Homo sapiens: one gene and its partners. The protein of the gene in region 1 purifies or fractionates together with the protein of each later gene. This does not show direct contact. Each region holds a gene or a part of one and is shown on either strand. Other genes may lie near its edges. The genes, in order: HK2, TRIM36, SEPTIN6, PYGL and SEPTIN10.

Evidence for each region.
Region 2: the proteins of HK2 (region 1) and TRIM36 purify together in Homo sapiens (affinity purification with western blotting; one study listed by BioGRID). This does not show direct contact.
Region 3: the proteins of HK2 (region 1) and SEPTIN6 fractionate together in Homo sapiens (co-fractionation; one large-scale study listed by BioGRID). This does not show direct contact.
Region 4: the proteins of HK2 (region 1) and PYGL fractionate together in Homo sapiens (co-fractionation; one large-scale study listed by BioGRID). This does not show direct contact.
Region 5: the proteins of HK2 (region 1) and SEPTIN10 fractionate together in Homo sapiens (co-fractionation; one large-scale study listed by BioGRID). This does not show direct contact.

What each region holds. Positions count from the first base shown.
Region 1 is NC_000002.12:74,881,235-74,887,142, forward strand, and holds part of HK2 (hexokinase-2), read left to right. Parts: intron 1-476; coding exon 477-625; intron 626-885; coding exon 886-1,005; coding exon of another isoform or gene 1,006-1,068; intron 1,069-4,259; coding exon 4,260-4,355; intron 4,356-5,059; coding exon 5,060-5,159; intron 5,160-5,255; coding exon 5,256-5,439; intron 5,440-5,908. UniProt on the Homo sapiens protein: Catalyzes the phosphorylation of hexose, such as D-glucose and D-fructose, to hexose 6-phosphate (D-glucose 6-phosphate and D-fructose 6-phosphate, respectively).
Region 2 is NC_000005.10:115,165,510-115,172,058, reverse strand, and holds the start of TRIM36 (E3 ubiquitin-protein ligase TRIM36), read left to right. Parts: upstream 1-2,150; 5' UTR 2,151-2,424; coding exon 2,425-2,451; intron 2,452-2,972; exon of another isoform or gene 2,973-3,092; intron 3,093-6,549. UniProt on the Homo sapiens protein: E3 ubiquitin-protein ligase which mediates ubiquitination and subsequent proteasomal degradation of target proteins. Involved in chromosome segregation and cell cycle regulation. May play a role in the acrosome reaction and fertilization.
Region 3 is NC_000023.11:119,626,064-119,631,971, reverse strand, and holds part of SEPTIN6 (septin-6), read left to right. Parts: intron 1-2,463; coding exon 2,464-2,654; intron 2,655-5,908. UniProt on the Homo sapiens protein: Filament-forming cytoskeletal GTPase. Required for normal organization of the actin cytoskeleton. Involved in cytokinesis. May play a role in HCV RNA replication.
Region 4 is NC_000014.9:50,922,434-50,928,341, forward strand, and holds part of PYGL (glycogen phosphorylase, liver form), read right to left. Parts: intron 1,668-5,908; coding exon 1,536-1,667; intron 1-1,535. UniProt on the Homo sapiens protein: Allosteric enzyme that catalyzes the rate-limiting step in glycogen catabolism, the phosphorolytic cleavage of glycogen to produce glucose-1-phosphate, and plays a central role in maintaining cellular and organismal glucose homeostasis.
Region 5 is NC_000002.12:109,582,032-109,587,939, reverse strand, and holds part of SEPTIN10 (septin-10), read left to right. Parts: intron 1-2,101; coding exon 2,102-2,219; intron 2,220-2,618; coding exon 2,619-2,814; intron 2,815-5,908. UniProt on the Homo sapiens protein: Filament-forming cytoskeletal GTPase. May play a role in cytokinesis.

The DNA of each region.
Region 1 (5,908 bases):
TTGTAACCTCAGAAATGGTGGTCTTATTCCAATTCAGAGAAGACAGTCGATGAGCAGGCCAGTGTAGCACAGTTGTTACAGGTTCCAGAGACAGACTGGGATTTGGTCCCTGCTCTACCCTGTCCTGGTCGTATGGCCCCGGGCAAGTGATTTAACTATCAGCCAGATCCCAATCATCCTTAAGAGAGGAATGCAGTGTCTCCCTCACAGGGCTGCCTAAGGGTTGAACGAGGACTGTGTGTGAAGCATGTGGCACACTGTAATTGTCCAACAAGGGAGGGTTTTCTCAGTTTAAAAGATTTCCCTTCAGCTTCCTTCAGGGAGCTGGACTCTTCTGTTCCTTCTGTATTCTAGAATGTAATATAAAGTGGCATTTGATGGAACAGGAATGGTGTATTTGGATCGTTTTAAGTGTACTGTCTCCACATTCCCCATGTTCTGCCCCAACTTATCACTTCCCTGGGCTTATTTTCCAGAGAAAGGGGACTTCTTGGCCTTGGACCTTGGAGGAACAAATTTCCGGGTCCTGCTGGTCCGTGTTCGGAATGGGAAGTGGGGTGGAGTGGAGATGCACAACAAGATCTACGCCATCCCGCAGGAGGTCATGCACGGCACCGGGGACGAGGTGAGCAGGGCGGCGCCTTCAGGAGGGGGCCCCTGGTGGACGTCACCTCTTGCCTTCGAGGACAGTGCTTTCTCTGCTCATCTGTGACCCTGGGGAGGGCTAGCTGGACCCAGGGCTGCAGCCTGGTCTTGACTCAGGTTTGTGCCTGAGCCTGCATTTCTTCTGGGTGGAAAGAAACATTGATGTTGTGCGCAGGCCCTACTGGGGGCAGCCTGCCCTGCCCAGGGCCCCTCCCTCAGTGTCCTAACTTCTCCCTGCAGCTCTTTGACCACATTGTCCAGTGCATCGCGGACTTCCTCGAGTACATGGGCATGAAGGGCGTGTCCCTGCCTCTGGGTTTTACCTTCTCCTTCCCCTGCCAGCAGAACAGCCTGGACGAGGTAACAGCACCTTCCTGGAGGGCTCTCCTGTGGGCTTTATTGACTCTAAACAAAACCAGCCAGGTATGGAGCAGGGGAGAAAGTTGAGCTAAGACTAAGGAAAGGAGGGCGTGAGTTACCAGTAGTGGGGAGGGGCTCCTTGATGGGAATGAGTAAGTTGAGGCTGGTGGAGGTTAAGTAGGTTAGCTCAGCTGTGACAGCCTTTGGGACAACGATGATGATGCTACTCAATGTTAACAACTGCCGGGTGTGGTGACTCATACCTGTAATCTCAGCACTTTGGGAGGCTGAGGCAGGAGGATTACTTGAGGCCAGGATTTCAAGACTAGCCTAGGCAACATAGGAAGACCCCATCTCTATTGAACTTATATATATATATATAGCATTTTTAAGCACTTACTGTGTGCCAGGTACTATGTTAGGTTTCTTACCTGCATTATCTCGTTTAACCCTCACAGCAACCATATAAGAGATATGTTTGAATACCCATTCTACAGAAAGGAAGATAAGCCCCACAGAGGTGCTGGGTGTCTTGCTCCAGGTCATAATAGCTTGGGACTGGCCAAGCCAAGATTTGGATTCTGGGTTCCTGATGCCTGAGCCTGTGCTGTCAGTTATGCTGTGGGGCTCCTGAGGCCCTTGTTATGGGCTCAGGGCATTTTCATGCCATATCCTGTTGTTTGGATGCCCTGGCTCTTCTCTGGTCTCATCTTGCTTCTCACTCCTCTTCAGGTTACCTTGGGTGAATGAAGTAGGTGCATGAGGATCTGGCACTCCCAGATGTTCTGGACATGAGTGCCCCGAGAAGTGGAGGAGAACTGAGTAGGCAGTGCTGGATCTGCTGATGACTGGTAGCCCTAAGCATTAGGTATCTGGAGACTGTTTTTAAGCAGTTGTGTCTCTGTCTCAGTCATGTAGGAGTGCACGTGCACGCTGCCGGTGTGTGGTATGTTGCACATGCCACTGCTAGGTATAAAAGGCATGGCTCCTACCTTTAGATGCTTACAAACAAGCTGGGCTGATGAAGCAAGCTCAGAAAAGGAAGAGCTGCTGTTTGGAATGTGGCCCTCGTGGGATGGATACTGAAGCCCCCAGGACAGGTAGTGAGACAGATGTTAATCCGAGTGCATACCTGGGGGATGTCAGGAGGACTTGGAACAAGTCAGAAGAATGAGTTGATGGGAAAGAAAGGTGAGCAGGCTGCCCATTGTGGAGAGGGTCATGTAGGTGGGAGCAAGTGACAGAAAGAGCTGGGCCAGCGCAGAAGAGCCTACCCTAGTGACAAGGAAAGAGCAGCATTTCCCACAGGGTCCCTGCAACAGTGGCCCTCACCTTGGCTTCACTGAGTTTTGTAGATGCCTCCTTCTCCTCCTTATCTGAGAGAATTCCCCATGTGCACTAGTATAATTAAGGTTTTAGGAAGTTCTGCAATAAAAACTCAGCTTAGTCTGGCATTTCTCAACACCTATTAACATTCATGTAGTGTTAACCAGACTAGCGTTGCTTTATGCCTCATGTGGACAAATTCTTATGTACTATTTAATGGACCATTACTTATTATAACAAAGATATTAGAAACAAACTTGCTGAATAGTGAGATAGTAGTTAAATAAATTATGACCCACTTATTAGCTAGTATCAGCCACTAGTTATTTGTAATAAATTTTAATCACATGAAAAATTACTGGTGATATGACTAAAAAGTTTTAAAACTACTTTTCTTTAGAAATGGTAATCTCTTTATAAAAAAACATAAAATACAATTAATGGGATGATAAAAGCATAACCCTCCAGTGTATATCCTTCTTCTAGACTTCCTACCAAAATATTTTCAAGTAGATACTATCTTAACTTTTCATGCCAACAGGTTATATATTTATTTATATATTTGCCAGGGAAACCAGAATGTGTGTTAACTGTTTCTGTCTGAATTGTGAGATTCCAGGCCATTGGATTAGGTTTTATTCTGTGTTCCAGGTTTCTCTGAGGAGCACGTGTTAGGTCTAGAGCCGTAAAAATTAAGAGCAAATAAAGCAGAAGTCATTTCTTCCTGTGGGCTCTGGCAAGACCCTCCTGTGATGGGGAAATCCCACCAGTGCAGAGGCCCCTGGGGTTAGAGACCCCAGGGCTCTGTGGCCCCCAGCTGTGTTTCCCAGCTGTTGGGCCTCCACTTGCCTCATCAGTAAGGATCACCTGAAATTATGTTATTTGAACATCCCGTAAACACAAACTTGCGTCAAACATGTGAAGCTAACTTGTAGAGAGCTGGGTGGAGATCAGCACACACTGGTCAGCCAGCTCTCTGAGGGTATGTGCTTTGTTTTTCTGAATCTCCTGGGGTCTGAACACAGTGTGACACCTCCAGGTTGATGTGAATGAAATGCCAAGCTGATGGGCATGAATCCCTGAGCAAGGCCTGGAGAAATCATGCAAGTGGGTGGGTTATGAGCACACAGCTCATTTATGGAAGCCGAGCTCTTGGGTAAGGAGTCTGAAGCCCTGAGGCTTGTTTCCTGGTGGGCTGTGGCAGCAGAGAGGGCATCAGGGAATAAAACCCAAAGCATTTCTCCCAGGTTCAAAGCCGTCAAGCATCTGCTCCCAGAGGACCACATTGAAGGCAAGGGGCCACTGAGGATGCTGAGGAGGAGCCTGGAGTTGTTTTCCTCACTGAAAGACATGGGGTGGTGGTGAAGCCTAGCTGTCACCCAGCTGTGGGCAAAGCACTTGTTCGCCAGATGCTGGAGTTTGAAAATTAGGAGACATACACTGACCCTTCTGATGTAAAGGATAGGGACAGAGCAAACTGCTTTGCCCAGTGAGCGAACCAAGCACATAGGAAGAAGTTGCACAGCAGGGTCAGCTGCGTGGTGCTTATGAGCCCATTCACTGGGGTCGGAGGGCCTCGGAGTGCATCCTGCTTCTCTCTTCCAAGCTGTAGGCCTTGAGCAAGTCACTCCAGAGCCTCAGTTTCTTATAAAGTGGCCATAAACATGATAGATGTTCCACAAGGGTGCTGTGAGGGTTAAATAATGTAATGCATGATCTATGCTTAGCCCAGTACCTGCTACACAGTAGGTGCTCAATAAATCCAAGTAAGTACCTTAGGAACAGTTTAATTTGCGGGTGAGATGATTGGTGACTCTGGGGGATCCGTCTGACCTGTGAGGTTGAGAGCTAGAAGCACAGCTGGACCCCCAGAACTGACCTGGGAGCTCTTCCCTGATGTCCTTTCCATGCTTGTGTGTGATTTTTAGAGCATCCTCCTCAAGTGGACAAAAGGCTTCAAGGCATCTGGCTGCGAGGGCGAGGACGTGGTGACCCTGCTGAAGGAAGCGATCCACCGGCGAGAGGTAGGAGACACATGGCACGAGGTCTGATGTGTCAGCTCCTCAATGATTGGCCTGGTCTGTGTGTTCAGAAAGTGAAGGCAACAGTAAGTGTGGCTGCATGGGTTGGGAGGAAGATTAACTCAAGCGTCGTTCAGCAGTTTAGTGTGCACTGTGTGTCAAGCAATGCTCTCAGCACTGGCGGTTCAGGAGTGACCACAACAAAGCTTTGTTCTATAAAGTCCATGACCTAGTGGCAGGTGCTGTTAAGAGCTGTGAAACACACACACACACACACACACACACACACACACACACACAGTAAAGGAATAAAAGAATGGCCACTCCATAAGCAAAACAGCCATGAGGGCTGCTGGTTGCACATTTTTATGGTTATTTCTTGATTATATGCTAAACAAGGGGTGTATTATTCATGCCTTCCCTTTTTAGACCATATAGAGTTTAAAAAAAAAAAAGAAAGAAAAGGAGTGAAGTGGGGTGAGGAGAGCAGATGGAGCAAGTGTGCTGGAAAGGGGCACTGTTAAATAGCACAACTTGGGAGGGTCTCACCAAAGAGGTGACATTTAAGCACAGACCTGAATGGAATGAGAGGGTCAGCCATGGTGTATGATATATATTTTATATACCTGTAAATCTCCCATGCAATTGTCTGAAAGGAGAATATTGGGGTTCACCTGTGAACTGGGCATCTGCTTCTTCCCTCTCAGGAGTTTGACCTGGATGTGGTTGCTGTGGTGAACGACACAGTCGGAACTATGATGACCTGTGGCTTTGAAGACCCTCACTGTGAAGTTGGCCTCATTGTTGGTAAGGACCCAGACTGTCCTTTCCACATGGGGATGCACAGCCTTGGGTGTGGAGGGGTTGGTGCTGAGTGAGGCCCTGGTATCCTGTGATTGGCAGGCACGGGCAGCAATGCCTGCTACATGGAGGAGATGCGCAACGTGGAACTGGTGGAAGGAGAAGAGGGGCGGATGTGTGTGAACATGGAATGGGGGGCCTTCGGGGACAATGGATGCCTAGATGACTTCCGCACAGAATTTGATGTGGCTGTGGATGAGCTTTCACTCAACCCCGGCAAGCAGAGGTAGGCACCCAACTGGGGCCCTGTTAAGTGTATCCCAGGACTGGATGGCAACAAGTGATCAGAGCTTCCACAATGGCATCTCCCAGGACGCCGGTTCTCGTGAGATGTTAATAAAGGAGGTTTTCTTGGAAAGGGTTTCTTGTCGAATGCACCTGGAAAGTTCTGAGTTAGTAAATGTAAGAAGCATCTCCCACCCAAAAGCCTAGGAGAACAGGTGGGAGAATACTAGACCCTAGGTCTGGCACTCTAAGGAGAAACAAGTAGAAAGTTGAAGCACCTGCTGCTGACAGGCTGAAGAGCATCTCTTGGGTGATGCAGACAGGAGCAAATCCTCTCCCTCCTCCATCTTCCAGCGCCGAGCACCACCTACTGTCAGAATTGAGCAAGGGGCCAGCCCCAGTGTCACAAGGTCCTGTGCATGGTAGGGGAGCGGGGTCTGAGCTAAGAGACAATAGCTTAAGATCTAACA
Region 2 (6,549 bases), on another chromosome or scaffold:
TTTTACAAACACAAAATTAAAACAAGAAGACACTTATACTCTGAAAGAATTAGGCTTAGAAAGTCCTCAAATCTAGACTAATATAAGGTCTTAAACATCTCATGGGACCAAAACAAAAATACCACCAAATGATCTGTTTCAGAAGGATGAATAGATAGTTGCTCACACAACTAAAACCTGTGCTGGGGTGATAATGGTAAGGTTGTGCCCACTGCATAAGTATTTTTATTTTTTTGGAGACACAGTTTTGCCAAGTGTATTAACACTTGCCAAGTATATTAACATCATGTTTGAATTTTGTGGATCAGGTAGAAAATGATAGCTCAGTGAAGTCTGATTTGCAAAATGGAAGGCCATAGCAATGTATTTTCACCAAAATATTGTCTATACAGATTTTATCTTTAATTCCTGTTAATGGAGCCTTCTAATCACTTTTACTGTGTCAACTAATAAGTTTTGGATCAAAGCAGGTGTGCGGATGTGAAATTACAGCCCAAGGGGAATTATTTAGCTCAAAGGCCAGTATGAGAAAGACTTATAATGCTTTCTAATGGTTGAGCCTTTAAATATATGTATATATATATAGGCACCTAATTCACGCAGGCATTTGTTAGTCTCCTCCTGATTAGCACTTTTCAGAACCTGTGGGAAGGAAGCCTTCCCAAGTCTAGCACCTGCGGCCACGCAACGGGCATTAATCCGGATCAGAACAGCCCAGGCATTATTACCTGGCAAAGCTTTCGTCCTCTGTTCACCTCATCTGTAAATGGAGGGTATTCCATTAGAGAAAATTGCTATAGTCCCTCAGTGTTTTTAATTCTACACTCCTTATTTAGATGCCGGATTGGAGACGAGGCTACCGCTGCAGACAGGGCTGTGGGAAGACGACGGAACTTGCCACAGCGACAGACTTCTCCCAAACAGGAAATAAAAGTGGGAAGCATTTTAAAACCTAAACGAGATGTCTCGCTACAGCTCTGTAGTCCCTACTTACCCAGCAATTTAGGGCATCTGTTCTTAAAGCCTAATACATAGGAATGAATTGTTTAGCTAGCCAGAAAGGCAGTGCGTGATCTAATAATCCTAAATTAATTTGTTCTCCGTGTGTCCTGAAAACAACACCAGAAACACACTTGGGCCGTGGCAGGTGAAATGTGCGCCGCCAGTCCTTGAGCTGGCGCGCGCCTTAACGTTCAGCAGCACTCCCCGCGGGGGTGCGGGGGTGCCGGAGCCGCTCAGGACCCTCTGTCCTGGCCCTCAGGAAGGAAAGCGTAGGCCCGGGTGGCGGGGGGTCTCTCCCTTGCCGCGGCCTTTTAACTTCAGTCCCTGGCCAGCATCCGGGAGAGGAATCTCCACCCTGCAGGCGGTCCCCGCGCTACTGGGCAAGAACGTGCGGTGACATCGCGACTTGGGGGTATAGAAGCAGAAAGCGGGATATGACTGCTCGGTGCCCAGTCAGGGACTATTAAGTTCACCCAGCAAGTGAAGCCAGAAGAGAACTGGGACAAGCCGGGCGGGGCCAGGGAACCCCAGGCCGCGCCTGGCTAGGGACCGCGGAGAGGGCGGGCGGGGTCTCACTCTGGTCGCCTCGCGCAGCTCTGCCGTGCTCGCCGCGGCCATTCAGGGAAGGTGGCTTAGGCTCGCCCTCGCCCGCACCGTCCTGTGCCGAGCCTGGAAGCGGGGCTTCGAACCGCGAGTGAAGAAAGCGCAGTGAGAGCAAACTGAAGGGCGGAATGGCAGCGCAGGGCCAGGGGCCAGGGGCCAGGGCTGCAGCCGGCTGCTCTGCTGCAGCGGAGCCTCCCCGCCCCGGCGCCGCCCTCGGCACCCGCCCACCGCTCCCCGCTGCCCTCACTTCCGTTCCTCAGAGCCCCCCAGCCTGGCATAGGGCGACGGGCGACTACCCGGGTGGGAGGGAGGGGCTGATGCGTAGGGGGAAGGTGGCGGCGGAGGGCGCCGAGTCCCAACCGCGTGCCACACCCACGCCCAGCCGAGTCCCGCTCAGCCTACCACTCAGACACCCGGCCTACCAGCCCCAGGCGGCCCCGCCTCTTTTGTGCGACTGGCGCTGTTGCCTGGGCAACGACCAGGCCACGCCCTGTCCACGCCCCGCGGTGCCCCGCCCAGGTCTCTGCGCGGCGCCGTTCCCAGCCGCAGTCCGCAGGAGCCGCTGCTGCAGCCGGCAGCTGGGCGGGATTCCCGGGGTAGTCGCTGGGAGCAAAGCTCGCTTCTCCCGCGCCTGTGCTTTTGCCTGCCCCGGCTTACTTCTCCCCGCGTCGGTCCGCTGGCCACGTACAGCTGACCAGCTCATCTTCCAGCTTCGGACCGAGGCTCCACGGCCGCCGCAGGGACCCGCCCACCAGACCCTGCGCTCGGTAGCCGGTGTGAGTGGAACGTGCCGCTGATGACACCTGGCAGAAGGCAGCCATGGAGGGCGATGGCTCAGATTCGCCGGTGAGTGCGGAGGGGACCGCCGCCCCCACCTCGAGGGCGGTGTGCCGACCGCGGCTCTTTCTCTTTCCTCCGCCGGGAGCCCGGAGGGAGCCTCCTCCCGGGAGAGCAAAGGCAGGCGTGTGGGGATCCCGCTTCCTCTTCGCCTTCTCCCGCCCGGGGCTAGGTTCCGCAATCCGGGGCGTCCCCTTTCTATCCCCGAGAGCCGGACGTGGGGTCCCCTGGGCCGGAGAAGAGCGCAAATCCGATGGTTGCCCACCTGAGCACCTCGGGGGAATCATGGAGGGTCTCTCTAATGGAGCTCAGGCTGTAGAATTAATTAGCGTTTGGGAGTCGGGTGCGGGCAGAAAGCTGGGGCGCGTCCCTCGCGCTTGCGGGGCCGCCCTTTGTCTAGGCGTCTTGACCCCCGCGGGCCCGGCCGGCTGCCGCCGCCTGGGCCAGAGGCTCCTCCCCGGCTTCGCCTGCCCGCGGGGGGCGGGCCGGGGCCCCGGCAGCTGTCAGCCTACAAGTGTTTTTGTTTAAAGGTGTCGAATGTGCAATTCTTCCGAAGTTTCTCGAGGAACTGCTTAATTGAGGGAGCCGCCACATCACACTTAATCAGTTTGTTTCTCCCTCAATGACAGATGAACTAAATTTTCTCTTGGGTAAGAAATACTTTATGTCCATTGTGATTAAAAAGTCAGATTCAAGACACTGCTTTATGTACAAGAAAATGGAAATGATTTTAGATCCTCCCCCAGTGACAAGTAAACCTGAACTGACCATATTTATACATAAAATGGAATGTAAGAACCTATTTTGGATATCCCGGACAAGATTTTCTTTTGAATTAGGTGCCAAACCCTTTGTGAAATGAGATAGGATGTGAATATTCTGTATTCTTTGATGTGAATTGTGAGGTTTAGTTATCTTATTTCCAAATCTGTGAACAGTTGGGAGGTGATATGGCTCTTCATCACATATTTGAGTGATGCAGCAAGAGACTGCATCGAAACACCCACTGACAATGATAAAACCAGTTGGCTCTAATGCAGTTAAATTGTCAGAGATTATTGAAGCACTTGGTGTCACTTTAGGGAGAATAGGTTAGCATACATTTTAAAATTTCATTACATTTAGTTAAGTCAATTTTAATTTTCTGTGTATTTCTAGTAGCTGAAATGATTGTACAAGGTTATAAGTACTTTGAAGTTGGGCTGTCTTTAAAATTGCAGGGATGCTGACTATAGGATTCATAGATATGAAGTCTGGGATACATGGAAAAAACTACGTAGAGAAATGATGGGGAAACTGGTATGAGGTCATCAAACTTTTTTAGTTGTGATGAGTCTAAAATGCTTCTCACTTAAAATAATGAAAGGCTGTAGTATTGAGAGCAGTTGTAGTGGTGCTTATACACCTTTTTAAAGGGTCCCCTACATTCTTTTAATATTCTGTTATGGTTAGGCTTTGTGTCCACACCCAAATCTCATCTTGAATTGTAATCCCCAGGTGTTGAGGGAGAGACCTGGTGGGAGGTGATTGGATCGTGGGAGTGGTTTCCCCCATGCTGTTTTCGTGATAGTGAATTCTCCCAATATCTGATGGTTTTATAAGGCAGTATTCTCTGTTCTTACTCCCTCTCGCCTGCTGCCATGTAAAACGTGCTTGCTTCCCTTCCTGCCATATTTGTAAGTTTCCTGAGGCCTCTCCAGCCATGCAGAACTGTGAGTCAATTAAATCTCTTTTCTTTATAAATTAGCCACTCTTGGGTATTTCTTTATAACACTGTGAAAAGGGACTAACACAGAGAATTGGTACCAAGGTAGTGGGCACTGCTGTAAAGATACCCAACAATGTGGAAGTGACTTTGGAACTGAATAACAGGCAGAGATTGGAACAGTTTGGAGGGCTCAGAAGAAGACAGGAAGATGTGGGAAAGTTTGGAACTTCCTAGAGACTTGTTGAATGGTTTTGACCAAAATTCTGCTAGTGGTATGGACAAAGAAGTGCAGGCCAAGGTGGTCTCAGATGGAGATGAGGAACTTGTCGGAAACTGGAGTGAAGGTGACTCTTGCTATGCTTTAGCAAAGAGACTGGCAGTGTTTTGCCCCTGTCCTAGAGATTTGTGAAGCTTTGAACTTGAGAGAGATGAAGCGGAGCGTAAAAGTTTGGAAAATTTGCAGCCTTACCATGGAGTAGAAAGGAAAAACCTATTTTCTGGGGAGGGATTCAAGCTAGCTGCAGAAATTTGCTTAAGTAAAAAAGACTCAAATGTTAATTGCCAAGACTATGGGTAAAATGTCTCCAGGACATGTCAGAGATCTTGGCAGCAGTCCCTCCGTTTGGCAGGGCCAAACAGGTGCATTAATGAAGAGAGCCCCATCACAGGCCTGGAGGCCTAGGAGAGAAAAATGTTTTAGTGGAGTGGGCCCAGGGCCCTGCTGCTGTGTGCAGCCTCGGTATCACAGGATCCTTAGGGTGTCGCTTCACCAGCCAGAAACCTCTGTGGCAAGTGTTGCCTTTGCCCAAGTTTTGCTCAGGCCCACTGGGCTTGTTCTGCCCACTTGACCCAGCAGGCTGTGCTTGGTTTTCACTACTGGCCCAGATCCCACGGCTGCCAACGGCAAGCCAGGTGCAGAGCAGCAAGGGGTGCATGAGTGAGCGAGCGCGGGGTACAGTGTGCACAGCCAGGCATGGTGGCTGTGGCGGGGCAGGCAGGTCCAGGTGCCAGTATGGGCGCCGGCTCCTTGCTGTGGCTGGAACAGGTGTACCACAAGTGGCTCCCACTACAAGCACTGTGGAACATGGTGGCACCCAGAAACTTGGAGATGCCGGCAACTGCAGAGCCACAAAGAGGATGTCACAGCCCTGGCTTGGGGAGCTCCTAAGTCCAGGCTCCCTGAAGGGCTGCAGCTCTTCTCTCCTCTCTTGTCTCCTCATCGTCACCCACAACATGGCGAGCAGCAGGGTGTATTTGACACAGTTTGTGTTACAGCTTGTTTGGTCCTGCCATTTGGCAGGTCCAGAGTTCCTGTACTGTGTCCAGGAAGAATGAGCTACATGGACAACTGGAGGGTGAACAAGGTGCTTTATTGAGCAAAAGAGTAGCTCTCAGGAGACCTGTCATGGGTAGCTGCTTTCTGCAGGCAGTTCCTCCCGACAACTGCAGCTCTCAGCAGAGAAGAGACCCGGAGTGGGTACCTCCTCTCTGCAGGCAGGTCATTTTGTCGAGTGTGCAGTCCTCAGTGGAGAGGAGACCCAAGTGGGTAGCTCTTACCTGCAGGCAGGTCGTCCTATCATCTGCCAGAGTCTGGCTGAGTTTGCGGTTTTTATGGGCTTCAGAGGGGAGGAAGTGTGTGCTGATTGGCCCATGGGTGGCCATGGGTGGGCCTGGAAAATTCACTGTAAGTTTTCACTCCAGTCAGTGGAACTGGCAGCCTGGACCCTAGGCTTCAGGCTATCCCTGGCTTGAAGGTGGGGTTTCAGCAGGGACCTGTCCCTTTCCTCCCAGGAGCCTGTCTCCCTCCCACTGCTGTTCATGGTGCCCAGACTGTTTTAGCTGAGGGACGCCTGCAGTACCACGTTGAGTCACCCTCAGCCCTGCCCTTGGCCTCCCTCCCACGTTCATCAGCGCCCAAAGTCCAGAGGGAGCTGAGGTGGCAGGGGGCTGGTGTGTCAGCATCTCCTCAAGCACACACACACCTGGCCAGGTCATGTCAGTGCCCGGGCTTGGCCACAGCTTTTCTCCAAAGTCAGAGTGGGCACTGGGAATGGGGAGAGGCCAAGCAGTAGGAGCAGGCACTTCTGAGCATGTGGGGGAAGAGAGGCATCCTGGGCCCCCGAGAGCATAGGAATGCCCTAGTCCACAGCTGGGTGGCTGCAATTGCACCCAGGAGCATGGGGCTCCCTCCGCACCAACTCGGAAGGGAGAAGGGCTCCTGCCTGTTCCTGGGTCCCGCTGGCTCTGCAGAGCAAGCAGGTCCGGCTGTGCCTTCCCAACTGCAGCCAGCATCTTTGCAGCAGCTGCTCCAGATGGGCTGCAGCTGCCATCACTGGGACTTGGTGCCCTGTGTCCCAGCTGTTCCAGTACCAGTTGTGGCTAAAAGGGGCCAAGGTACA
Region 3 (5,908 bases), on another chromosome or scaffold:
GGCTAATATGGTGAAACCCTGTCTCTGCTAAAAATACAAAAATTAGCCAGGTGTGGTGGTACGCACCTGTAGTCCCAGCTACTTGGGAGACTGAGGCAGAAGAATTGCTTGAACCCAGGAGGCGGAGGTTGCAGTGAGCCGAGATTGTCCCACTGGACTCCAGCCTGGGCAACAGAGCGAGACTCCATCTCAAAAAAAAAAAATAATTACAAATACAAAAAATTAGCCAGGCATGGTTGCACGTGCCTGTAGTCCCAGCTACCCAGGAGGCTGAGGTAGGAGGAATGCTTCAGCCGAGAGATCGAGGCCACTGCATTCCAGCCTGCGTGACAGAGTGAGACTCTGTCTCAATAAAAAAAACAAAAATGTCACCCAGCACTTTTAGGAGGAGAAGTGAGGGGATCTCAAAGACAAATGAATAAAAGTGCAACAAACAAAAACCAGGTTAAGGCAATTGATAGGCAGCCCTAGTGACTAGTAAGAGCTGCTTTAGGCCAGGCGTGGTGGCTCATGCCTGTAATCCCAACACTTTGGGAGGCCAAGGTGGGCGGATGACAAGGTCAGGAGATCGAGACCATCCTGGCTAACTCAGTGAAACCCCGTCTCTACTAAAAATACAAAAAATTAGCCAGGAGTGGTAGCACGTGCCTGTAGTCCCAGCTACTTGGGAGGCCGAGGCAGGAGAATCACTTGAACCTGGGAGGCGGAGGTTGCAGTGAGCCGAGATTGTGCCACTGCACTCCAGCTTGGGCGACAGAGCGAGACTCTGTCTCAAAAAAAAAAAAAAAAGAAAAGAAAAAAGAAAAGATCTGGTTTATACAGCAAGTCTGTCACTCACCCACCTAAGTGACAGTGCCAAATACCCCCAGGACCCGGAGAACTAACCTTCTTCATCGTATGCTGCAAGTGCTACAGAATCCTAAACTCTCTCCTGAATCCATGAAAGAAAGTGAAATTCGGCTTGCTCTGCTCTTACTATTCAGGGTAGTTTATTGCATTCTAGTTTGTGACTGTCTGTGCCTCTTGTTCTCTGATCCACTTACCACAATGGCATGCCAGAATATTCTTTTTTTTTTTTTCCGAGACAGAGTCTCACTCTTGCCCAGGCTGGAGTGCAGTGGTGCGATCTCGGCTCACTGAAAGCTCCGCCTCCCGGGTTCAAGTGATTCTCCTGTCTCAGCCTCCCAAGTAGCTGGGATTATAGGCAAGCGTCACCACGCCCAGCTCATTTTTGTATTTTTAGTAGAGACGAGGTTTCACCATGTTGGCCATGCTGGTCTAGAACTCCTGACCTTATGCCACCCACCTTGGCCTCCCAAAGTGCTGGGATTGAGCCGACTACTGGGATTACAGCACTCCCAAAGTGCTGGTATTACAGGCGTGAGCCACTGTGCCTGGCCCAGAATATTCTTCTTGTTCTTCTTTGGGTTTCTGGTTCTATTCAGGACTAATTAAGCCTCCCTTTAGTTAAGGCTGAGGTGTCTGTACTCATTCCATGTCATAAAGTCCTTTTTATTTCCTTCCATGTCCAAAGCCAAGTATTTCCTTGACTGGCTTTCCCATACTGAAGTTTTCTCTGAGATCCATGGTGATCCTTCCTGATTGCAGGGGTTAAGAAAAGACAGGGGTTCCTTACACATAAGAGGTCCCATTATATAATGTTCTAAATACTGGGTTGACCATAGTCAAATTCCTTACTTCTCAGACCTTCTGTTTCCTCATAAAATGGAGATAATAACGGAACCTACCTCATAGGAATGTGGTAACAATTAAATAAATTAATATACATAAAGGACTTATAAAAGTCAGTGCTTAGCCTGTAATTACTCGGTAATTTCTTTTTTTATTTTTTGAGACGGAGTCTTCCTCTGTTGCCCAGGCTGGAGTCCAGTGGCACAATCTTGGCTCACTGCAACCTCCGCCTCCTGGGTTCAGGTGATTCTTCTGCCTCAGCCTGCTGAGTAGCTGGGACTACAGGCACATGCCACAATGCCTGGCTAATTTTTGTATTTTTAGTAGAGACGGGGTTTCACCATGTTGGCCAGGCTGGTGTCGAACACCTGACCTCAAGTAATCTGCCCACCTTGGCCTCCCAGAGTGCTAGGATTACAGGCCTGAGCCCGGCCAGCACTCAGTAAATGTTATATTATTATAATTGATGTTATTATTGACCATGTGTGGTAACTATGGGGACTCTTTTTAACAAAATGTCTGACTAAACACAATGCAGTATTCCTTTACCATATTCAGGAGCAGAGACTTGGAGATAAAATGGCAGGAAGAGAGAACGATCCAGAGCATGGTGCCTTTGGTGCCATCATAGCAATCCCTGACAGAAATGCCCCCTGAGGTTCCAGGGTCCTGCAGGGTCACAGCCCTACTGGTCCCCACCCACCTGGGCTTGGCCAGGCTGGGGACTGCTCACAGGGGATTCTCTCCAATCTCCCTGTGCTTCCCTGCCAGCTGCACGAGAAGTTTGACCGTCTGAAGAAACTGCACCAGGACGAGAAGAAGAAACTGGAGGATAAGAAGAAATCCCTGGATGATGAAGTGAATGCTTTCAAGCAAAGAAAGACGGCGGCTGAGCTGCTCCAGTCCCAGGGCTCCCAGGCTGGAGGCTCACAGACTCTGAAGAGAGACAAAGAGAAGAAAAAGTAAGTAGCAGGCTGCTCTGGGGTGGTGCCTTCTCTTTCCTCCTGCTCATCCTCCCAGGGCAGGACGTGGCACCTGAAGGGGCTGAGGACTGGTGACCAGAGGTGAGCTGTGGGCTGTCAGACTGGTTGAGGTACCTATAACTGGTCCCAGCATCCCTGTGGCACCTTTGGATTCCCTGAGCTTGGGGAGTTGAGAGTAGCAGAGGGGTGTGGTCCCAGAGGCCCAGCCCATCTGTCCAGCTTGCTCAGGAAAGCCCTGCAAACTCAAGGTCCATAGGAAAGGAAGGGAAAAGAGGAAAAGCAAAGGAGAGTGAGAGAGCAGAAGGGAAGAAAAAAATTAGAGGTGCAGCAATATAAGAGAGGAACAAGGCCGGGCACGGTGGCTCACACCTATAATCCCAGCACTTTGGGAAGCCAAGGCAGGAGGAACACTTGAGGTCAGGAGTCCAAGACCAGCCTGGCCTATATGGCGAAACCCCGTCTCTGCTTAAAAAAAAAAGAAAAAAAAAATAGGCTGGGCACGGTGGCTCACACCTGTAATCCCAGCACTTTGGGAGGCCGAGGCAGGCAGATCACAAGGTCAGGAGATCGAGACCATCCTGGTTAACACAGTGAAACCCCATCTCTACTAAAAATACAAAAAAATTAGCTGGGTGTGGTGGTGGGTGCCTGTAGTCCCAGCTACTCGGGAGGCTGAGGCAGGAGAATGGGGTGAACCTGGGAGGCGGAGCTTGCAGTGAGCAGAGATCGTGCCACTGCACTCCAGCCTGGGCGACAGAGCGAGACTCCGTCTCAAAAAAAAAAAAAAAAAAAGAGTTCAAGACCAGCCTGAACAACATGGTGAAACCCTGTCTCTACTAAAAATACAAAAATTAGCCAGGCGCGGTGGCGCGCGCTTATAATCCCAGCTACTCAGGAGGCTGAGGCAGGAGAATTGCTTGAACCCAGGAGGCAGAGGTTGCAGTGAGTTGAGATCGCACCACTGCCCTCCAGCTTGGGCGACAGAGCGAGACTCCATCTAAAAAAAAAAAAAAAATACAGAAATTAGCTGCCTGTAGTCCCAACTACTCAGGAGGCTGAGGCAGGAGAATCACTTGAACCCGGGAGGTGTAGGTTACAGTAAGCTGAGATCACACCACTGCACTCCAGCCTGGGCAACGGAGTGAGACTCCATCTGAAAAAAAAAAAAATAGAAAAGAAAGAGAGGAACAAAAAGAACTGCAGCTACGGGCCGGGCGTGGTGTAATCCCAGCACTTTGGGAGGCCAAGGCGGGTGGATCACTTGAGTTCAGGAGTTCGAGACCAGCCTGGCCTACATGATGAAACCTTGTCTCCACTAACAATACAAAAAATTAGCCAGGCGTGGTGGCGTGCGCCTGTAATCCCAGCTACTTGGGAGGCTGAGCAGGAGAATTGCCTGAACTGAGGAGGCAGAGGTTGCAGTGAGCTAAGATAGCACCATTGCACTCCAGCCTGGGCGACAGATTGAGACTCTGTCTCAAAAAAAAAAAAAAAAAAAAAAAAAAGAAGTGCAGATACAGGATAGTGGAAGAAAGAGAGAGCCTTTAGCAGAAACTCGGTGCACCCTCTCCCCACCCTTGCCCTATATCTGAGGTTGCTCACCTCTCCATGGCCGTAGTCCCACCCTCACCCTGCCTCAGTTATTACTCTCTGCAGCCAACAGAATTTAACTGCTGCCAGTGAAGGCTGCAGCTCAGCCCTGATTTCCCACCCCTTTGTGATCCCTCCCTGCTGGCTTAGTTCTGCCTAGCCTGGGGTGCTGAGAACTTATGGGGGAGCCCTCAGATGCCAGTGTATGCTGCATGTGCCCCATCCTCAATCTGTGGAATGACTGTAAGACCTTCTGATCTCCCCTGGTATTAGAACAGTGGCTCCTGGATACCATGTGGGTCAATAATCCTCACCCAACCCCAGTCTCTGCTTGCTGAAGTTACCCATTCCTCATCCCAGAACTGGAGAAAAATATTTCAACGGGATCTAGAAAAACTCCTGTGGTGCCCTTGTGCCCTGCAGTTGTTTGTGCAGTGTGGCTTGAGGAGTTCCCAGGTGGACTGTTTAGCTGTGTCTTTACTGAAGGGTACTGAGGATCCAAAAGGTGTCCATGGTCATTGCCTTCTGTTTTCAGCCATTTGTTCCTGGACTTAACTATGGGATATTTTTGCCAGAAGGAAGAAACACCTTCCTTTCCTCTGGCTTATCACTTAGGAATAACATGGTAACTTTTGCATAACAGTAAAATATGTTATATTTGAAGGCATTCAGCTTTGCAATCCAATTACTCTTTATGCAAATGTGTAATTTAAACATCTTGGCCGGGTACGGTGGCTCACGCCTGTAATCCCAGCACTTTGGGAAACTGACGCAGGCAGATCACCTGAGGTCAGGAGTTTGAGACCAGCCTGGGCAACATGGCGAAACCCCGTCTCTACTAAAAATACAAAAATTAGCTGGGCATGGTGGCCCACACCTGTAGTCCCAGCTACTCAGGAGGCTAAGGCAGGAGAATCACTTGAGCCTGGGAGGTGGAGGTTGCAGAACCAAGATCATGCCACTGCACTTCAGCCTGGGTGACAGAGTGAGACTTTGTCTAAAAAAAAAAAAAGAACATCTTCACCAATTAGTCCAGAAATTTTTCTTACTGAATCTTAATACTATATGTCAAATTCACTGATGAATGAAATTTTTTGGTATTACCTGATGGATAAAGTTCAACTAGCCAGAAAAAAGTCTCTTTGGACACACCCTGTACTGTATTAACTTATCTGTCATGGTGTATTAGTTGCACCAGCAGGAATGAATTCCTATTTTTAAGATCAGAAAAATCTAAATTTGTCATCCAGCTGTAACCTGCTGCCTTCATAGTCCTGTGGTATTTGTTAACTCAGTACCTGGGGCAGTTTCATAGCCTGCTTGTGGGAGTTAGGAATTGGTTTGTTCAGGCTACAATGAAACTATAAATATTCCCTATTCAGATGTTCAGTAAAAGTTCTTCTTACATCAAGCTTTCCCCTTGTTGCCTCATACTGACTGACTTCTCCCACCCCAGGCAGGAGACCCCAACAGGGAGATACCCCTCTCTACTCTTCAGGAATATTTGGGGTTGGTGACAGTGCCCCTTTCCAATTCTGAAATGGGTGAAAACCCTGCTGGCATGTGGCACCTTATATTAGCAATAAGGGCCTAACAGAATGACCTGTCTTCTTCTGTACTTCCAGATGCAGAAGTGGCCCTGA
Region 4 (5,908 bases), on another chromosome or scaffold:
TCTCTGGACTTTTAAAGCAAGTTGTAATCAATCAGGGAAAGTCATTTGCAGGCTGGGATTGAGTCTCGGTTCAAACAAGAGTTGGACCCTTCTGACCCTTGAAGCATAATTAAGGCAGCCCAAGAAGTGCACAGCTTAGATCTTCTTTCAGAGAACCTCAAAGAGGACTTGCTCCCTCAGAGCTCACACCAAAGCTGCGCTCTCTGGGACACTCCATGTGGCTGGGACACTAGGGCCGAGACTTCTCTAATGGGCAATCTTTAGTGTCAGGCTCCATCAGCCTGGCCACTTGCTCAGAGTGGCACTGTGGTCTGAGGCTCTCCCTGAGAATGCTGCTTCTTTCCCCTTCACTTTTCACAGGTGGCACACCTGTGTCACAGTCTGAAGCCTTCCCACCTCATCCTGCTCCCTCTCCCCTTTGTCTTTCATAGGCATCCCCCAATATGTCACTTGCACTTCTCATTCTCTCTGGTGTCTGTTTCCTAGAGGACCTAAACTGACACGTGACTGTGTCATTTGACTTTATTGGAAGCCATCCCATGCACGCACAGAGCACATCTGGACTCATGCTCTGACATCACTGGGTACCAGTTTGGGGTTAATTCATGTGATGACTTCAATCTATGAGGCTAAGTTGCATGGCTTGGGCCAGCTCACTTATATTACCTCTGCCCCCTAACCTTGCCTCTGTTGGCCCAGAAACACACACTCTCTCTAATTGAATTTCTGGATACATTATGACAGTATCTAGAGGTGTTTTGTAAATGCAAGTTAGCTCAGCAGTGGGACCCACAGTGTAAATAAAATGCTTCCAGGATTGATTGTGTAAACTGCAAACTTTTATTTTTATTTTATTTTATTTTATTTTTTTTGAGACAGAGTCTCACTCTGTTACCCAGGCTGGAGTGCAGCGACATGATCTCAGCTCACTGCAACCTCCACCTCCTAGGTTCAAGCGATTCTCCTGCCTCAGCCTCCCATGTAGCTGGGACTATAGGCATGGGCCACCACTCCTGGCTAATTTTCGTATTTTTAGTACAGATAGGGATTCACCATGTTGGCCAGGCTGGTCTTGAACTCCTGACCTCAGGTGATCTGCCCGCTTCGGCTTCCCAAAGTGCTGGGATTACAGTTGTGAGCCACTGCACCCAGCCAGGAATGACATTTCAAATTATTCAATTTTGCTATCAACACCTTAATATAAAACCAAAGAGGTAAGCATGCTGGTTACTATAGAACTGACAATTTTCTGGCAAAAAAAAAAAAAAAAAAAAAAGAACTGACAATTTTCTGACAAAGCTGGTTGCAAAATGACCCTTATAAAAGTCACTCCTCTCTTGGCCTCAGCTCCTTTGTCTCCAAAATGACTGGGCTGCGCTAAGAGAAGTAACAGATTTATTTACAAAAATATATTCTATTATTCAAAACACGACATGCCCTATACTCAATATCACCACTATATGCTACATAGTCAATGTATTATCTACTGTACTAAATACTATACAAAACGCTGGCTATACGAGCACTCTGAATACTTGAGTGTCAATCCACTTGGTCCCGGTGTTGGTGTGTTCTACTTTTCCATAGAAGTGCACAGGCAGCATGAATTCTGGGCGGGACTTCTCCCAAGGGTTTCCATATCTGAGCCAATCATCTGCTTCTTCTACCTGCAAAAGGATACAGTATTGCTTAGAATTTATTTGTCAGGAAATATGAACCTAGCACTTCAATTATATTATATTAAATTTAAAACATCTTTAACTGAAACAACTTATGAATACTGAGTACTGTTTTGTAACTTTTTTACAGCCTACATCAACAATAATACTCGCTAATACAGCTCTAAATATTTTATATGTATTACTGCATTTAATCCTCTTTTAAAGATGAGGAATTGTAACTGCTCAAGGTCAAATAGTAAACGGTAGAGATAAGATCTCAAGGTCAAACAGTAAACGATAGAGATAAGATCTGCCCTTAGGTCTCTGTGTTCCAGAGCCTCTGTCTTAACGTCTGTGAATCCAATTGTCCAGCTTCAGCTAAAGACAGACGCCTTACAGGGATGTTTATCGTTGGATACCTGGGCCTGTTGAGTCCTACACAAAGGGTTCAGTCAAGATTCTTGTGGCTAGAATATACAGAATCAGTTAGAAAATGCTACTTACAGAACACTCTTTTAATCAAGCTTATTGGTATAGGTACAGAACATTATTGCATTATGTAGTCTTTGCTTATCTCAATCCTTATGTAATTTTGATTTGATAATGAACTATAGATTATAGTTTATTTTGAAAATAACATATTCCAAGAGGTAATGAACTTATTTTATTGACAATTTCAATATTTTCCTAGGTATTTATGTCAATTTATAACAAAATATTTCTTATATACGATTTTAAACTATGGTTTCTATTTAGGATATCCTGGACATCAAATACATTTTCATTTGCAACAAACAAACAAACACATCAAAATAAGAACACCACCACCACCAAACACATTGGAGGGGGATGTATTTTTAAATTATTGAAACCTTTAAAATATGACACATACAGTTGTGGATTGCTTAACGACAGGGATACATTCTGAAAAATGTGTTCTTAAGCAACGTTGTCATTGTGCAAACATCACAGAGTGCACTTACACAAACCCAGATGGTGCTGCCTACTACACACCTGAGCTATATGGTATGGCCTCCTGCTCCTAGACTACAAACCTGTACAGCACGTTACTGTGCTGAATACTATAGGTAATGGTAACACGATGGTGTTTGTATATCTAAACATAGAAATAGTACAGTAAAAATTCAGTATAAAACATAAGAAATGGTACACCCACAGGGGGCAGCTCCATTACCATCTTATGGGACCACTATTGCATATGTGTTGTATTGTTGACTGAAATGTCATTATGTGGTGCATGACTATACATTAAAAAATGGAATTGTGTTCTGGCCAGAAGGGGGTAAACAAAGCAGCTTTGTCAATGAGATAATCTCCAATATGGTTATTTTACCTATTTGATACCTCATATTCACCTCTTAGAAAACTCAGCTTTAGTTTTAGAAGATACTGCTTAAGAATTACAACACAATGTTGGACATCTCATGATCACCTAAACATGAGTGTAATGCCTGTCTCAGGAACAGTGTGAAGAGACAAAAATAAACACAGCCACTATCTTTTGAGAATTTAGACTAACCATTATTGTCAACAGCCAGAGAAATGAATACAAGTTCACTTATTCAAATTTTGATAGTGTTGTTTATCAAGAAAGCCAGTAAGCTTCCCACTAATATTAACTACCAGTGTAATGATGAATGGAAATGGGACTCATAGCAACAACATCTTTAGTTGGAAGAGCTAGGAGTTAGAGAGCCACTGGAGGAAGGAGGAGGTATCAGATGCAAGATGAACCCTAGGGAAGGCTGGAGAGAGATCTGAGCTCGTCAGAAAGTCACATCTTCTTAAAATGCAGATTCTCAGTAGGTCTGGGGAGGGGCCTGAAATTCTGCATTCCTAATAAGCTCCCAGGGGCTCCTGATTCTACTGGTCCCTGAACCCCACAAAGAGCAGCCAAGAGCTACAAGGCAATGCAAAGTCAATAACTGTAATCTGTAATTCAGAATTAAAAACTAAACTTCCGCTATCCCAGTCATAAGAGAACAAAGATAAAATTTTTTTGAGGCAGGAAGGTCACTTGATCCCAGGAGTTTGAGAGCAGCCTGGGCAACATAGTGAGAACCTATCTCTAAAAAAAATTTAAAAATTAGCCGAGTGTGGTGGTGTGCACCTGTAGTCCCAGCTACTCAGGAAGCTGAGGTGGGAGGATTGCTTGAGCCCGGGAGGTCAGGGCTACAGTGAGCTGTGATCATGCCACTGTACTCCACCCTGGGTGACAGAGTGAGACTCCATCTCAAAAAATAAAGTAAAATAAAATAAAATAAAATTTTAATAAAGAAACAGTTGAAGTTTGCCAGTTGTCAAGAAGCTTGTTAAAGAGTCCATTAACTTGGCCAGGCGTGGTGGCAACGCCTGTAATCCCAGCACTTTGGGAGGCCGAGGTGGGCTGATCATGAGGTCAGGAGTTTGAGACCAGCCTGGCCAACATGGTGAAACCCCGTCTCTACTAAAAATATGAAAATTAGCCGGGCATGGTGGCGGGCACCTGTAATCCCAGCTACTCAGGAGGCTGAGGCAAAAGAATCACTTGAACCTGGGAGGCAGAGGTTGCAGAGAGCAGAGATTGTGCCACTGCACTCCAGCCTGGGAGACAGAGTGAGACTCTGTCTCAAAAAAAAAAAAAAAAAAAAAAAAAAAAGAAAAAGTCCATTAACTTGGGTTCATAACTAGAAATGCTATAATAAATAAAATGATGACATCAACAAAGGATCAAAACATCTTGACTTACAAAATACTTTATGCTGCACTTAGGCAAGGGCCAATTTTGGGTTTTAAAATACTGAGCAATGTGAACACTGCTTCCTGTAACAGGAAAGAACCATAGGCCTGTTTGCCTCATTTCAGCATGCAGGGCTGTTGTAAAACCCATCTGAAGGTATTGTATGAAATAGGAAGACGATGAGGCAGAAACAGTTTTCCTCTGAAAACTCATGACCATGGGAGAACTGATGACATATTTTTTTGCTGAGAAATGCAGCAGGATGATATACTGTCCTGCCCCCAAGAAGCCTGAAATGCTCAGATAAGAGAGGATGGGCACTGAACTTCCTCCTGTGGGCTCAGTCCCTGACTCCTGTGGAAGTCAGAGGTTGCATTTACTCTTTTTATTTTTATTTTCATTTTCTTTGAGACACAGTTTTGCTCTGTCGCCCAGGCTGGAGTCCAGTGGCACAATCTTGGCTCACTGCAACATATGCCTCCCAGATTCAAGTGATTCTCCTGCCTCAGCCTCCCAAGTACCTGGGATTACAGGTGCCCGCCACCACACACAACTAATTTTTGTATTTTTAGTAGAGACGGGGTTTCACCATGTTGACCAGGCTGATCTTGAACTCCTGACCTCAAGTGATCTGCCTGCCTCGGCCTCCTAAAGTGCTGGGATTACAGGCGTGAGCCACCACGATAAGCCACATTTGCTCTTTTGAGGGTACACTCTTACATGAGATTCTTAATGCCATCAAATGTTGGTTGAATTTTTTTCCTGCCAAGTAAATGATTGGTTTTAGCTTCATGGGGCTAACAACTCGTAGGAGAGTTTATTTGCTTGCTGTTCTTTATTGTGAATCTCCCGCTGATTCAATAAAGAATTGGTGAATAATTCTATCAATTTTATAAGGCTTGTTTTTAAGGTAGATTGAGAAACAAGCGTTTCATAACAAGTTGACCTGAGTAGATCTGAGGAGGAGAGAACTATCCCTTGCTGCCTCCACTAAATCTACAGAAGCTGCAAGATGGTGATAAACCTTCTCTCTACCTTGCTTTCTTCCAATGAATTGACAAATTGATCTGTAAATTTAGGTTTCCATGTAGCCAGTGATCCCCAAATGCACTAACATGCCAATCATATGAAGGGGTAGGGGTGGGGGGCCAAGGTGGGAGAACTTTCATCTACATCCAAGTGAGCTGTCAGAGCTGTTTCATCCCAGAGGCTGCACGGGGCTGAAGAAAGCAAGCGTGGATCTGTGGAGTAAAAGAGCCAACCTGGGTGCAGGTGGCAGCTGGACTAGGCATTTCTTTAGAGGAATGACTCAATGGAATCTGTCCCAGCCAGCAGGGATGGAGAGGTCAGCCCAGGGGACTCTGTTGACTGAATTCTAAGAAATGCTCTTCTCTGCACCTGTGGGATACAGAGTCGACAAAGAACCAGTGAACAGTCATCAGGAGAGCCCATGAACTTGGCTTTCTGATGTTATAATAACTGATAAATGTTTCTGTGGCACACCAAG
Region 5 (5,908 bases), about 35 Mb from region 1:
GTGTGTTTGTTTTTGTTTTTTTTTTTGGAGATGGAGTCTTGCTCTGTCACCCAGGCTGGAGTGCAGTGGTGCGATCTCAGCTCACTGCAACCTCCACCTCCCAGGTTCAAGCGATTCTCCTGCCTCAGCCTCCTGAGTAGCTGGGACTACAGGTGCGTGCCACCACACCTGGCTAATTTTTTGTATTTTTAGTAGACACAGGGTTTCACCGTGTTAGCCAGGATGGTCTCAATCTCCTGACCTTGTTATCCACCCGCCTCGGCCTCCCAAAGTGCTGGGATTACAGGCGTGAGCCACCACACCAGGCCTAAAGTTTTCATTATCCTTGTTTTTTAGCAGTTTGCTGTGATGTCCCTAGATGTGAGTTCCTTTGGATATTTCCTGTTTGTAGTTTGCTGAAATTCTTGTATCTCTGAGTTCAAGTTTAGAAAATTAGAAAGTTTTCAGTCACTATTATTTAGATATTTTTTTCCCTCCCTCCTACCCCCCACTTTCACCTTCTCTCTTTCTCTAACTTTTCTCCTTGTATTCCAATTACTGGTATGTTAGATCATTTGATACTCTCACACAAGTTTTTAAGACTGTCATAGTTTTATCTTTTTTCTTTCTGTGAGATTTTTAGCTTGGATAATAACTATTGAACAAATCTGTCTTCCATTATTTGATCTGCTGTTAGTACTAAATATATTTTTTACTTCAGATGTTGCATTTTTACATTCTAGAAATTCTGTCTGCTGCTTTTTGTCGTTGCGAGCTCTTTCATATCTTTCTGTAATTCCCCGTCATGCCACCCATTATATCCATCTTTTTCCTGTAGATTCTTTAGCATATTTGTTATCATTATTTAAAGTTCTTACCTGCTAATTAAACATCTGGTTCATTGTGGCTCTCTTTCTGTTGACTTTCTTTCTTGACTGTGAATCACATTTTTCTGTTTTTTTCCTGTCATAATTTTTTTATTGTATAGTAGATACTGTAGAGATGCTAGATTCTGTTTTCTTCTTCTGCAGAGTCTTGAACTTTGTTCTAACAGGCAATTAAATTGCTGACTGATCACATTGATCATGTTGAGCCTTGTTACAGGCTTTGTTAAGGCAGGTCTGCTTCAGCTGTGCTTTCTGATTGCTGAGTTATGGACCTTACTCCTAAAATGTGGCCCATCTAGGGTTTCAGTAGAAGGCCTAGGGTGTTTACAGGAGACTCTTTAACTTACAGGCTTAAAATTTAAGCTCTGTCCATCTCTCCAAGATGGCACTTGAAAACTCTGCATAGCTCCTCCCAATTCCCATTTTCCCCCTTCTGGGATCTTTGTATTCCCTCTGTATGTGTGCAGTTTGGCCATCAGCCATGGATTTGAGTGGAGTGTGTTTGTAGATTTTGGACTCCCTTCTTTCTGGAATTTTCTCCCTGAATTCCCAACCAATCTGCCTGCCCCAATCTCCAATGGACATCTTAACCCATTAAGACTATAACTTCCCTCCTGAGCTCTATCTTCCTTTTGCCATAATGACTAGGGAGTGCCTTCAGGGAAAAAGCTAGATAAACTCATCTCACCTGATAAGTTTCCTTCCCTCAAGTCTTATTCTGTCCAGTGTCTATCTGCCTTTGGTTGCACTCTAGTGACTTAAAAGGGTTGCTTGTAATTGTTACCAGTAGGCAGGTAAGTTTGACCTAAGTTACTCTGCCATTACCAGGAGCTGAACCTGTATCTGTACTTTTGTTTTGTGCTTTTTTTTCACTTGACATTTTAATGTAAGAATTTTCTAAGTTTTTATCATAAACAAATGGACTTTAACTTTTTATTTTGTAAGTGAATATGCCATAGTTGGATATTTTCCTATTTTGGAAATCGAATGTTTTAATGTTATACATAGTGCTAGACTCTCGTTGTATGAAGGGGATAAGAAATGTATGTTTTGAGGATCTGGACACAGGTTTCTTTTCCTGAAAATTTACTTAATCGCTTGTATCTTAGGTGAGGTATAATGATTATAAAAATTTTCATTTATTTGATATATTTGTCCTTCAAGTGTGCCTACATCCTATTTAAGTCAAAGTTGTTTTTTTTATTGCTGTTGTTTTTGTTTTTATTTTCCTTCAGAAAAGAGAAAACATTCGTTCGTTGACTATGTCTGGCCATGTTGGTTTTGAGAGTTTGCCTGATCAGCTGGTGAACAGATCCATTCAGCAAGGTTTCTGCTTTAATATTCTCTGTGTGGGTACGTGCCACCTACTCTTCCTCTAAGTTGTTCCTTCATATTCCTTGTGCTCACTTCATTCTTGTCATGGGCAGAACAATGCTCATGTTATCAATTTGAAATCATGATCCCAGGGATTCTCTTTAGTTGTTTAGATTCTGTTAGTTTTGTTTTTCTTAGCTTTAAGCTTTTGGCTTGTTATATAAACATCTCAGTGTTGTTGTCAGAGTCCTGAGTAGCTTAGCACACTTACTCTATGCTCTGCTAATGACTTGGGGGACCAGCCGTAGTGTGTATTTCTTTCATGCGCACCCTGGCCTTTGAAATATTTGGGATCTTTGAAACCACTCTAGGCATTTACAGTTGTATTTCTTTTCAGCCATTCATGCAACCATAAAGATGTACCTTTGTGTGTTTCAGGGGAAACTGGAATTGGAAAATCAACACTGATTGACACATTGTTTAATACTAATTTTGAAGACTATGAATCCTCACATTTTTGCCCAAATGTTAAACTTAAAGCTCAGACATATGAACTCCAGGAAAGTAATGTTCAATTGAAATTGACCATTGTGAATACAGTGGGATTTGGTGACCAAATAAATAAAGAAGAGAGGTATGTGTTTTCTTCTTGTAATAAAACAAGTTTTTCTTATTTCAAGACATTCGCCTTATAGCCCCATGAACTATGATTTGATTTTCTCCTATGGTAATCCATACCTTTCCTTCCACACATTGTTTTAAAAATAAAATAATTAAACAATATTTTGTTCTTATTAGCACATTGACATTTTTCTAGCCATTTGTCTAATTTCTTTAGAATAATTTGAATCACCTTATTAAAATGTGCATTTCAGCAAAAGTAGCTTTAATTATTTCCTGACATGCAAATTCAGTGTATATTAATTATACTAATTTTCAGGCAGGGCTTATCTCCTTGAAGAAAAAAAATACAAGACATATAAGAACAATATATACAATGGCCAAATACATGATGCTTGAATTTTTTGTAAAATTATAATCAAATTAGCCAGTTACATTATTAATCATTGCAGGAAAGTTTTGATAGTGAAATTTTAATTTATATTTTACCTTGTGTCTCTATTTGTTTTAATATTTCTCCTAAGGTCGTATAAAGATTGAGTAGAGATTCTATGCTCTATCAAATTTAAACTATGAAAGGGGGAAAAGGATTGGTAAAGCAATAACTTTTTGTTCGTTTTCCTTTTTGAAATGTGTTTCAATTTTTTTTTTTTTTTTTTTTTTTGAGACAGAGTCTCGCTCTGTCACCCAGTCTGGAGTGCAGTGGCATGATTTCGACTCACTGCAACCTCCACCTCCCCAGTTCAAGCGGTTATCCTGCCTCAGCCTCCCGAGTAGCTAGGATTACAGGCACCTGCCACCACACCTAATTTTTTTTGTGTTTTTAGTAGAGACGGGTTTCACCTTGTTGGCCAGGCTGGTCTCGACCTCCTGACCTCAGGTGATCTACCCACCTCGGCCTCCCGAAGTGCTAGGATTACAGGCGTGAGCAACTGCGCCCAGTCTTATTTCCATTTTTGTAAGTAATTTTTTTCCTTTTAAAAAATAATTTCAATTTTTCGTTTAGATTTGGGGTACATTTGCAGGTTTATTACATGGGTATATTGTGTGATGCTGAGGTTTGGGGTACAAGTGATCCAATTACCCAGGTAGTGAGCATAGTACCAATAGTTAGTTTTTCAGCCTTTACCGGGTATCTTCCTTCCCACTCTAGTAGTCCCAGTGTCTGTTGTTGCCATCTTTATATCCATGTGTACCCAATGTTTAGATCCCACTTACTTATAAGTGAGAACATATGGTATTTGGTTTTTTGTTCCTGAGTTAATTTGCTTAGGATAACGGCCTCCAGCTTCATCCATGTTGGTACAAAAGACTTGATTTTGTTCTTTTTTATGGCTGTGTAGTAGTCCATGGTAGGTATGTACCACACTTGTTTTATCCAGTCCACGTTGATGGGCAGCTAGGTTGATTCCATGTCTTTGCTATTGTGAATAGAGCTATGATGAAACATATGAGTACATGTGTCTTTTTGGTAGAATGAGGTATTTTCTTTTGGATATATTCCAAGTTGGAATAGCTGGGTCGAATGGTAGTTCTGGTTTAAGTTCTTTGAGAAATCTCCAAACTGCTTTCCACAGTGGCTGCATTAATTTACATTCCCACCAGCAGGGTACAAGCATTTCCTTTTCTCTACAGCCCCGCCAGTATCTGTTGTGTTTTGACTTTTTAATAATAGCCATTCTGACTGTTGTGAGATGGTATCTCATTGTGGTTTTGATTTGCATTTCTCTAATGATGAGTTATGTTGAGCGTTTTGTCATGTTTGTTGGCTGCTTGTATGTCCATGTCTTTTGGCCACTTTTTAATGGGGTTGTTTTTTCCTTGTTTAGTTGTTAGTTTCTTACAGATTCTGGCTGCTAGACTATTGTTGGATGCATAGTTTGTAAAAATTTTCTCCCATTCTGTAGGTTGTCTGTTTACTCTGATGATGGTTTGTTTTGCTATGTAGAAGCTCTTTAGTTTAATTGGCAATTTTTGTTTTTGTTGCATTTGCTTTTCAGGACTTAATCGTAAATTCTTTTCCAAGGCCAATGTGCAGCATGGTGCTTTCTAGGTTTTCTTCCAGGATTCTTTTATTTGAGGTCTTACATTTCAGTCTTTAATCCATCTTGAGTTAATTTTTGTTTATGGTAAAACATAGGGGTCCAGTTTCATTCTTCTGCATATGGCTAGCCAGTTATCCTAGCACCATTTATTGAATAGAGAGTCCTTTCCCCATTGCTTATTTTTGTCAGCTTTGTTGAAGATCAGATGCCTGTAGGTGTGCGGCTTTATTTCTAGGTTCTCTGTTCTATTCCATTGGTCTATTTGTCTGTTTTTATACCACAACCATGCTGTCTTGGTTACTGTAGCCTTATAGTATAGTTTGAAGTCAGGTAATGTGATTCCTCAGGCTTTGTTCTTTTGCTTAGTATTGCTTTGGCTATTCAGTCTCTTTTTTGTTTCTTTATGAATTTTAGAATAGTTTTTTCTAATTCTGTGAAAAATGACATTGGTAGTTTGATAGAAATAGCATTGAGGCCAGTTGTGGTGCCTTACGCCTGTAATCCTAGCACTCTGGGAGGTCAAGGAGAGAGGATCGCTTGCTCAGGAGTCTTGAGACTAGCCTGGGCAACATGGTGGGACCTCGTCTCTACAAAAAATTTTAAAAAATTAACCAGGCATGTTGGTGGGCACCTATACTGCCAGCTACTCGGGAGGCTGAAGTGGGACTATCACTTGAGCCTGGGAAGTCGAAGCTGCAGTGAGCCGTGATCATGCCACTGCCCTTCCAGCCTGGGTGGACAGAGTGATACCTTCTCAAAAACAAAACAAAAAAACAGCAATAGCGTTGAGTCTGTAGATTGCTTTGGGTAGTATGGCCGTTTTAACTATATTGATTCTTCCAACTATATTGATTCCATGAGCATTTTTTCAGTTTGTCGGTGTCATCTGTGATTTCTTTCAGCAGTGTTTTGTAGTTCTCTTTGCAGATACCTTTCACCTCCTTGGTTAGATATATTCCTAGGTTTTTGCGTGAGAGTGAGTGTGTGTGTGTGTGTGTGTGTGTGTGTGTGTGTGTGTCTGTTGTACATGGCATTGTGTTCTTGATACGGCTCTCAGCTTGA